3 separate regions of the Homo sapiens genome follow, and all the other regions are reported to be linked to region 1. Evidence: microRNA targets listed by miRTarBase, many of them from high-throughput screens and not tested one by one. Region 1 holds a microRNA gene; each other region holds the end of a gene's coding sequence.

The links. The annotated mature microRNA hsa-miR-1273h-5p reads CUGGGAGGUCAAGGCUGCAGU and lies in region 1 at 2,096-2,116, opposite strand. An mRNA with a match to its seed (bases 2 to 7 or 8) in the 3' UTR can be bound and repressed. Matches are read on the target gene's strand: a 7mer-m8 pairs with bases 2 to 8, a 7mer-A1 pairs with bases 2 to 7 and ends in A, and an 8mer does both.
Region 2: miRTarBase lists INTS13 as a target of hsa-miR-1273h-5p. Seed matches in the 3' UTR shown: 8mer at 598-605.
Region 3: miRTarBase lists TLN1 as a target of hsa-miR-1273h-5p. The part of its 3' UTR that is shown has no 7-base or 8-base seed match.

The regions. Positions count from the first base shown.
Region 1 is chr16:24,202,116-24,205,263 of GRCh38, reverse strand. It overlaps MIR1273H (microRNA 1273h), which reads right to left and starts at 2,148; the gene lies at 2,033-2,148. All of the region lies in intron 16 of PRKCB (protein kinase C beta), which reads right to left.
Region 2 is chr12:26,902,897-26,905,896 of GRCh38, reverse strand. INTS13 (integrator complex subunit 13) reads left to right here. Exons shown (of 17, transcript NM_018164.3): 17 at 361-716. The coding sequence ends at 400. Among named protein-coding and RNA genes, the nearest start is that of INTS13, 34 kb to the left of the region's middle.
Region 3 is chr9:35,694,988-35,697,987 of GRCh38, forward strand. It overlaps TLN1 (talin 1), which reads right to left. Exons shown (of 57, transcript NM_006289.4): 57 at 1,961-2,929. The coding sequence ends at 2,804. Among named protein-coding and RNA genes, the nearest start is that of TPM2, 6.6 kb to the left of the region's middle.

The DNA of each region.
Region 1 (3,148 bases):
ACGGGGAATCCCTTGAGCCCAGGAACTGGAGGCTGCAGTGAGCTATGACTGTTCCACTTCACTTCAGCCTGGGTAACAGAGTAAGACCCTGTCTCTAAAAAAAAAAAAAAAAAAAAAAGGAATTATAATAATAATTTTTTTTTTGAGATGAAGTCTCACTTTGTCGCCCAGGCTGGTGTGCAGTGGCACGATCTCGGCTCACTGCAACCTCCACCTCCCGGGTTCAAGCGATTCTCCTGCCTCAGCCTCCCAAGTAGCTGGGACTACAGGCACCCATCACCATGCCCAGCTAATTTTTGTATTTTTAGTAGAGACGGGGTTTCACTATGTTGGCTAGGCTGGTCTCGAACTCCTGACCTCGTGATCTGCACGCCTTGGCCTCCCAAAGTGCTAGGATTACAGGCATGAGCCTCTGTGCCTGGCCATAAAAAATTTTAAAACACACAAAAGAATCCTTCTTAATCCCGCCACCCCAAATCTCTGTATTATGTTAACATCTTGGTTTGTATCCTAGATGGCTGGATGAATAGATGAATGGATGTTTTTTAGTTTTTAGACAAAGGTGGAATCATGACTCTGTTCTTTTGCTTGCTTTTTAAAAGAAACTAGATGAAATACACTCTAAACATCTTCCCATGTCAACAGAATATCATTTTTTTTCTTATCTATTCTTCACCATTCATCCTAAACCCACATTGTTGGCTTCAAGTAAACTCACCCTCAAATAGTAATTATCCCTTCTATTTGCCTATCTTTTTATAGCTTTGATTCCCACAAGGCTGTGAGATAGGCAGGAAAAGGATTATCTCTACTTAACAGATAATTTTAAGAGTTAACAGTTTGTTCAGGGTCATATAGGGTCAAGTAGGAGAGCCAAGATCCAGAGCCCATCTGTTCAATTCCAAAGCCCATGGGCTTTCCATTACATCCCATTGCCTCATACTATGTATCTGATTGTGTGGCACGGACTTAAAAGTTAAGCTAACCTGGGTACCAATCCTGGCTCCAACAATTCCCAGCTATACAACCTTCAAGCAAGTTAGCTAAGTCCCCTAAGCTCAAGTTTCTTGTAGGGTGTGGCGAGAATGACTTGATAAAATTCACATCAAATACTTAACATGGTAGCTGGTGGTTACTGCTGAGGGCTGACTGACCCATTCATGTCCAGTGAGTAAGTCTGACAGGGCTGTGCTCTGGCTTGAAAGAGGTCCTGTACGCTCTGCCAAACCCTAAATTCCTACCCATATTCCCATCCCAATTACAAGCAGAATGAGGACCTGCCAGTGCTACTTTAGACATAGAACAGAAACCTTCCCACTTAGCCTGGTGCATCACGGCAGGAAGCTACAAGACAAAGCCAGGCCCTGGGGCTCCCAGTTAGAGGAAGTGAGAAAAAGACGTGTACCCTGGGAAGAAAAAGGGATGCATTTCCGTTCCCATCCAAGCCTCACTTCCTTAGAAAGACATTTCAGGTAGATTAACACACCATCTCTGTGCTGTTTTCCATATGCCATTTGGGGGGGCATTTTGTGGTTATTTTTAAGAGACTGCACTTGTAACAAAACAAAAAGTAAGCTTTCTGTTTTCCTTTCTGGGTCATGAGCTGGTCTCAACCCTCCAAATTCAACTGTCACTGGAAGTCTTTGTGGAGTTGGAATTTCTATTGGGAGTGGCTGTGAAGGTAGGAAGAACATCAGCAAATGTGGTGATATGGTTTGAATGTGTTCTCCCAAAGTTCTTGTGCTGGACACTTAATCCCCAATGCAACAGTGTTGAGAGGTGGGAACTTTTGGAGGTGACTGGATTGATGTTATTATTGTGGGAGTGAATTTATTTAAAAAGTAAGTTACCCTCCCTCATGTGTTCTCTTGCCATGTGATGCCTTCTATCAGGTTACTATGCAGCAAGAAGGTCCTCCCCAGATACAGCCCCTGATCTTGTACTTCCCACCCTCCAGAACCATGAGCCAAATAAATTTCTTTTCATTGTAAGTTATCCACTTTTTTTTTTTTGAGACAGGGTCTCACTCTGTCACTCGAGCAGGAGGATTGCTTAAGCCTGGGAGGTCGAGTCTGCAGCAAGCTGTGACCACGACACTGCAGCCTTGACCTCCCAGGCTCAAGCAATCCTGCCTTAGTCACCCAAGTAGCTGGGACTACAGGCATGTGCCACCCCACCTGGTTGATTTTTGTAATTTTTGTGTGTGTAAAGACAGATTTTGCCATGTTCCCCAAGCTGGTCTCAAACTCCTGGGCTCAAGCTCAAGTGATCTGCCCATGTTAACCTCCCAAAGTGCTGGAATTACAGGCATGAGCCACTGCACCAGGCCCCAGTTTCAGGTATTCTTATAGCAGCACAAAACAGACTAAGACAGACACACAATGTCATAAAAATGAAGGAGAAGAGGGGCTTAAAAAGAAAGAAGGCACTCTGAACTTTTCCTACAGATAAACTCACTTATATAGGAAACTAGGAAGTTATTCAAAGGGTGATGTAGAGTTAGATAAGCAGATAAGAAACAATCTCCAAGACAGAGGGGAATAATGCAAGATACAGAAATTGTACACAGCATGCTAACATCCTTGTGTGTGATGTAGACTATTTCTGGGCCTGAACACATCTTCTCTAGAAGGTCACACAAGAACCTGGTTGCAATGGGTGTCTCTGGGAAGGAGAACCAGGAAGCCTAGCTAGGAGCCATGGGTGAGGGGAATCTTAATTTCACTTTGTAGCTTCTGATGCTGCTTGAATATTTTATTTTTTCACATTTTTTTAAAGGAGAAAGGATTAGAGCACCTAATAATATGGTGAGGTCAAGAAAGATGAGACAAGCTTATGAGAAGAGGCAGTTTTCAGGTCATTGATGACTCAATGAGAAAAATATCAATAGGATGGCGGGAGCAGAAGCCAGATTGCACCAAACTGAGGAAACAATAAATTGTCATCAAGTGGAAATAGCAGGAACTGGCAACTCTTTCAAAAGTGTGTTTGTATGCAAAGTAAGGTAGGGTAGTAATCATAGCAGTAGTAAGAGTAGTAGTAAGGAGGATTCCCAGGTTTGAGGTAGGGGATTTTTAACATGAAAAAGACATAGCAGGTTTATGCACAAAGGAGAAGGCCAGGATAGAGTCAGAAAGGACAGCTGCTG
Region 2 (3,000 bases), not on the chromosome of region 1:
TGTTGGTGGAAATACATTTATTTAGTGGGGAAGGAAATAAATTCTTGATGAAATTGTAGAGATTTTTTCCTTAGTTTTGCTTGGAAAGGGAGAGTGTGGTATAGTCAAACAAACAAACAAAAAACAGTGGCCTTTGACTTGTAACCTTGGGAAAGTCACTTAGTCTCTCAAGGCCTCAATTTTCACTGTAAAATGAAGAAATTGGCCTAGCTAGAGGAACCCTGATGTTAGTCCTTTCCTAAAATGCTGATGTTCTGTTCTGTGAATATATTATTTTAATTTTCATGTGAAAGGTAGATAAGGAGACAAAATGTTAATGAATATTTATTTTATCAACTCGTTTTTTTCTTCCTATTTCAGGATGGAGACAACAGAAAATGGAAAAGCCAGCCGGCAGTGAAGAGTGACTTGAAGAACTAAATTTAGCATATTGCAAAAATATTTTGTGCGGAATTCGATATAAGTACTTTTACAGCAAGATGGTATAGTTATGTTGCCTGGACTGGTTTTTACATTTTTAAAATATTTCAGCTGTCATTTTTGTACTAATTATAAAATTGGCACATAATTCAAAAATATACATTTGAGATGATTTGTCCTCCCAAATTATACAAGTTTATTTTATGGTATAAAGTGTTCTCTCTGGAAATGTTTTTAAAAAAATTCTTAGGCTTCTCTTTGCGAAATAAAACTATTAAAATATTTGAAATGCAAAACATTGGAGAATTACTTTAGAAGATACTTTAGTTACTTAATGACTGAAAACAACCTATAGGAATTTTTAAAAATTTGATGAGAGTTTAAGATTTGCAATACTTAATATAAAATTTTGCCTATTAAGCTGCATCATATATTGTGCTTTTCTAAAAAAGAACATTGTTTTTATCTTGTTTTAAGTTATTTTGCATATGTGTTCTTACCCATTTAAAAGTAGAGCTTTCAGGTAGGTTGTATAATTTTATATTTACTAGTATTGGGTAGTTTTACTCTTTATATTTTTCTGCAAAATATTTTCCATCCATTTGCTTTTCTTATTGAAAGAGAAGCGTAAAGGAAATTACTTCACAGATTTAGAAGAAAGAAAAGTTACTAGGTTGATTTTATCTCTGGATAGAATCTTAGTCTCATTTCTCAGAGATGTCATGGTTACATGTTATATGTTTCTTGGGCCTTTTTCCTGTGCTGCTTCATCTAGAAGTTTATAACATGTTACAAAAGGTAGGTTATTTCAATGTTAAATGCTAATTGTAAGTTTGCCATTTTTTTCCTTGAGTGTTTATTAGAGAAAGGAAGCTCTTTATACAGACTCAGTATTTTCTTTTTTTTTTTTTTTTGAGACGAAGTCTCGCACTGTCGCCCAGGCTGGAGTGCAGTGGCGCGATATTGGCTCACTGCAACTTCTGCCTCCCGGGTTCACACCATTCTCCTGCCTCAGCCTCCCAAGTAGCTGGGACCACAGGCGCCCACCACCACGCCTGGCTAATTTTTTGTATTTTTAGTAGAGACAGGGTTTCACCGTGTTAGCCAGGATAGTCTCAATCTCCTGACCTCATGATCTGCCTGCCTCGGCCTCCCAAAGTGCTGGGATTACAGGCCTGAGCCACTGCACCCGGCCCTCAGTATTTTCTATTGAAAAAAAAAAAAAAACAACTGGTCTTTACACAGGGGTTCAGCAGCCTTCCAGGTCAGCCTGGTGAAATTGACATTGCTCTCCTTTATCAACTCCTGTCTCATTCTCAGTCCTCTTCCCTCAGATAGAGCTACTTTTACTCCATTCCACTGTGTTTAGATATACATTGACACAAACCATACACAGGCAGGGCCAGGCCTAATTAACATCTTAGACTTTCGGGGTTTAAGGAACCATAACCCAATAGCTAATTAATAGATCATATTTACTTTTCAGTGGGCTCTGACCTTTTATTTATTTATTTTTAAATTATACTTTAAGTTCTGGGATACATGTACAGAACGTGCAGGTTTGTTACATAGCTATACGTGTGCCATGGTGGTTTGCTGCACCCATCAACTCATCATCTACATTAGGTATTTCTCCTTATCTTATCCTTCCCCTTGTTCCCCCACCCCCCCGACAGGCCCCAGTGTGTGATGTTCCCCTTTCTGTGCCCATATGTTCTCATTGTTCAGCTCCTACTTATGAGTGAGAACATGCAGTATTTGGTTTTCTGTTCCTGTGTTAGTTTACTGAGAATGATGGTTTCCGGCTTCATCCATGTCCCTGCAAAGGACATGAACTCATCCTTTTTTATGGCTGCATAGTATTCCATGGTGTATATGTGCCACATTTTCTTTATCCAGTCTAACATTGATGAGCATTTGTATTGGTTCCAAGTCTTTGCTATTGTGAACAGTGCTGCAACGAACATACGTGTGCATGTGTCTTTATGGTAGAATGATATGTAATCCTTTGGGTATATACCCAGTAATGGGATTGCTGAGTCAAATGGTATTTCTGGTTCTAGATCCTTGAGGAATTGCCACACCGTCTTCCACAATGGTTGAACTAATTTACCCTCCCACCAACAGTGTAAAAGCGTTCCTATTTCTTCACATCCTCTCCAACATCTGTTGTTTCCTGACTTTTTAATGATTGCCATTCTAACTGGCATGAGATGTGATCTCATTGTGGTTTTGATTTGCATTTCTCTAATGACCAGTGATGATGAGCTTTTTTTCGTATGTTTGTTGGCCACAAATGTCTTCTTTTGTGAAGTGTCTATTCATATTCTTCGCCCACTTTTTGATGGGGTTGTTTTTTTCTTGTAAATTTGTTTTAAGTTCCTTGTAGATTCTGTATATTAGCCCTTTGTTCGATGGATAGATTGCAAAAACTTTCTCCCATTCTGTAGGTTGCCTGTTCACTCTGATGATAGTTTCTTTTGCTGTGCAGAAGCTCTTTAGTTTAACTAGATCCCATTTGTCAATTTTGACTTTTGTTTCCATTGCTTTTGATGTTTTAGTCATGAAGTCTTTGCCCAT
Region 3 (3,000 bases), not on the chromosome of region 1:
CAGATTTTTCCCTGAAGTGACAGACTCACTTTGTTCCTTTTTAGAAAAGTTCTGCCAGCTACCTAAATCTGATAACCACAGTTTGTCGGCCATTCTTTTGAGTAAACGTGGCATTCCATAAAAGAGCAGCTAGTTCAGCTCACAACTCAAAGAATGGCCTAAGTTATTTCCTCCAGAAAACCATCATACTTTGGTATGCAAAATGTCTTATGCATACTTCCCACTTTATCAGACAGAATGTTGAAAAGCCTTTTCCTTAAGGATTAAGGTTTAATTAAATTAATACATTTAGGCTGGGCGTGGTGGCTCACGCCTGTAATCCCAGCACTTTGGGAGCCTGAGGCAGGCAGATCATGAGGTCAGGAGTTCAAGACCAGTCTGGCCAACATGGTGAAACCCTGTCTCTACTAAAAATACAAAAATTAGCTGGGCATGATGGCATGTGCCTGTAATCCCAGCTTCTCGGGAGGCTGAGGCAGGAGAATTGCTTGAACCGGGACACAGGAGGTGGAGGTTGCAGTGAGCCGAGATCACGCCACTACACTCCAGCCTGGGCTACAGACCGAGACTCCGTCTCAAAAAAAAAAAAAAATTTTTTTTTTTTACTTCATCAAGGACATTTTTTTTGAGTCTTGCTCTGTTGCCCAGGCTGGAGTGCAGTGGCGTGATCTTGGCTCACTGCAACCTCCGCATCACAGGTTCAAGCAATTCTGGTGCCTCAGCCTCCCAAGTAGCTGGGAATTACAGGTGTGCACCACCATCCCCAGCTAAGGAAAATAATGTCTTGGTATTTTTATGAAAATAATTTTGACCTATGGACCCCTGAAAAGGTCTTAGGGAACCCTAGGGGTCTGAGGACCACATTTGAAGAGCTGCTGGTTTAATAGGTTTTAAAGCCTCTCCCCAGATGGCTCCCAAGGTATCACTAGTGAGAAGTATGTGATTGGTCCCAGTTCCTGAGGACATGACAAGGAAATGGTAACAGGAGTAAGCAGCTGTCCTGGGCTCCTAGCTGGAGTTCAAAGTCTAGACTGCCACTTGTCGGGGAGGTTATAGAAGGGATTTGATCTCCAAGGTCCTCAACTGATACTATGACATTGAATCTGGGATTAGGGAGCCCCCACAGTATGTACTGGAGTTGCCAGTCCTCTGCGTCAGAGAAGTGATAATACATCTCAATTTTCCAGTGCTTAGCACAAGCATGGCTTAGTAAATATTGAATGAATGAATCACAGGTGATAGGAGTGATGGTAGGAGGTTGGCACCATCCCTAATGGGCTGTCCTAGAGTTCCATCTACTTTCTTAGAGAAGGGCTCTCACTCCGTCACCCAGGCTGGTGCACAGTGGCACCATCATAGCTCACTGCAGCCTTGAACTCCTGGTCTCAAGCAGTCCTCCTGCCTCAGCCTTTTAAGTAGCTGGGATTAGAGGCTCGAACCACCGTTACCAGCTACATTCCATCTACTTCAAGCTTTCCCTAATGTGGTGGGAGTAGAAGGTGTTAGTAGCAGATGGGTGGCGTTTGTGTTCTACTTGAGGAAATAATGTACTGGGCGGTAGGGCTGACTAAAGAATCACGCATGAAAATAGTTGCCAACCTAAGACGACTGTCAGAGAGTCCATGCATTATGGACAGAGTGGCTGGATGGGGACGTGGAAGCACACAGCATCCACCTCTCTGACTGCCTCTTTCCACTGACCCACCAGATAAGCAGGGTGGCTGGAACAGGGCTGCTAGCACCTTCCTGGCCACTAGGGGAGCTCTGCCCCCTCTAACAATAAATTCTCACACCTGGGTCAAGCTCTTCACTTTTAGCGCTACCCTAGGCAGGAGTGTCCCAACCCAATCAAGAGCGGTGCCTACCCGAGGCAGCCTCAAGTTGGGATTTTTCTGCTTGCTAATGGCTTCAATCAGTTTTGTGGCCATAGTTCTCTTAGGCTCAGACACTTACAGGCATATTATTTTTAGCAAAGCTTCTTTTGAAAATTTGAATTTGGTCAAGGACTGGATTTGTTGACATACCCTGAGTAGCTATGAAGAACAGAATGTCCTGGTAGCCACAAGGAACTGTGGTAGCTGCTGTCCCAGCAGCAGCAGAACGACACTTTGTGAGGCTTAGGTGCTGGCCAGGGAGGTGAGGATAACAGGAGTATGACTTCTCAGGCACAACTTCCCCATTGGATAACTTTAGGGTCCGGGTGCAAGGAGGAAGGGACCTCAGGTGCAGACTGCCAGTCTTCCCCTCTCCCATTTCAAGCTGGATCAAGCTGGGTGACAGAATTCAACCCCACTGTCTCTCCTACTGCCCTGGGAGAAAACTTGTATCTCCCTTGAAGCCAGGCAGAGGTTGTAGGTAGAATCATTTTTATTGGAGCATGACCTGTTTGGGGCTTATAACTCTGCAGCCCCTATGGGTAGCTGGGGGTGGGGGAAGATAGTATCAAAAAACGGTGAAGAGAGCTGATGAGGCTGTGGGGACTGGCCGGAAGCTGCTGGCAGGGTGGAGTGGGCTGGGGCCCCGGCAGATTCAGATCGAGGTACAGCAGCGTTAATAATACTCTTGGAGCGTTAATACTCTGGGGAGGGGCAGGCACTTGGGGGGCCCTAGGGCATGAAGGCACTTGGGGTTGGGGAGGGGACAGGGGATGTACTGCGGGACTGGGCGGGGCCAGGCCCTGGGGTTTGGCAGGCACTTTGGGGAGTGCTGGGGTTGGGCAGGTTGGGCCCCGACAGCCCAGAAGGCTTTGGTAGTGGCACGCACAGTCTCTGGGCCGGGTCTGCATTAAATAGAAGAGGCTTCTTTAGTGCTCATCTCGAAGCTCTGAAGGCAGAAACTTGTACTGCTGCTGCCGGATCTGGGCCAGTTTCTTCCGCGCCTCTTCCAGCTCTCGTTCCTTCCGAAGCATTTCTTCCTGTGCTGCGATGATCTGAGGGTGGAGATCGGGGACTTAGTTCAGTGAGGATGCACAGCAGGGGCATAGGGTAGTTGGGACCAGCG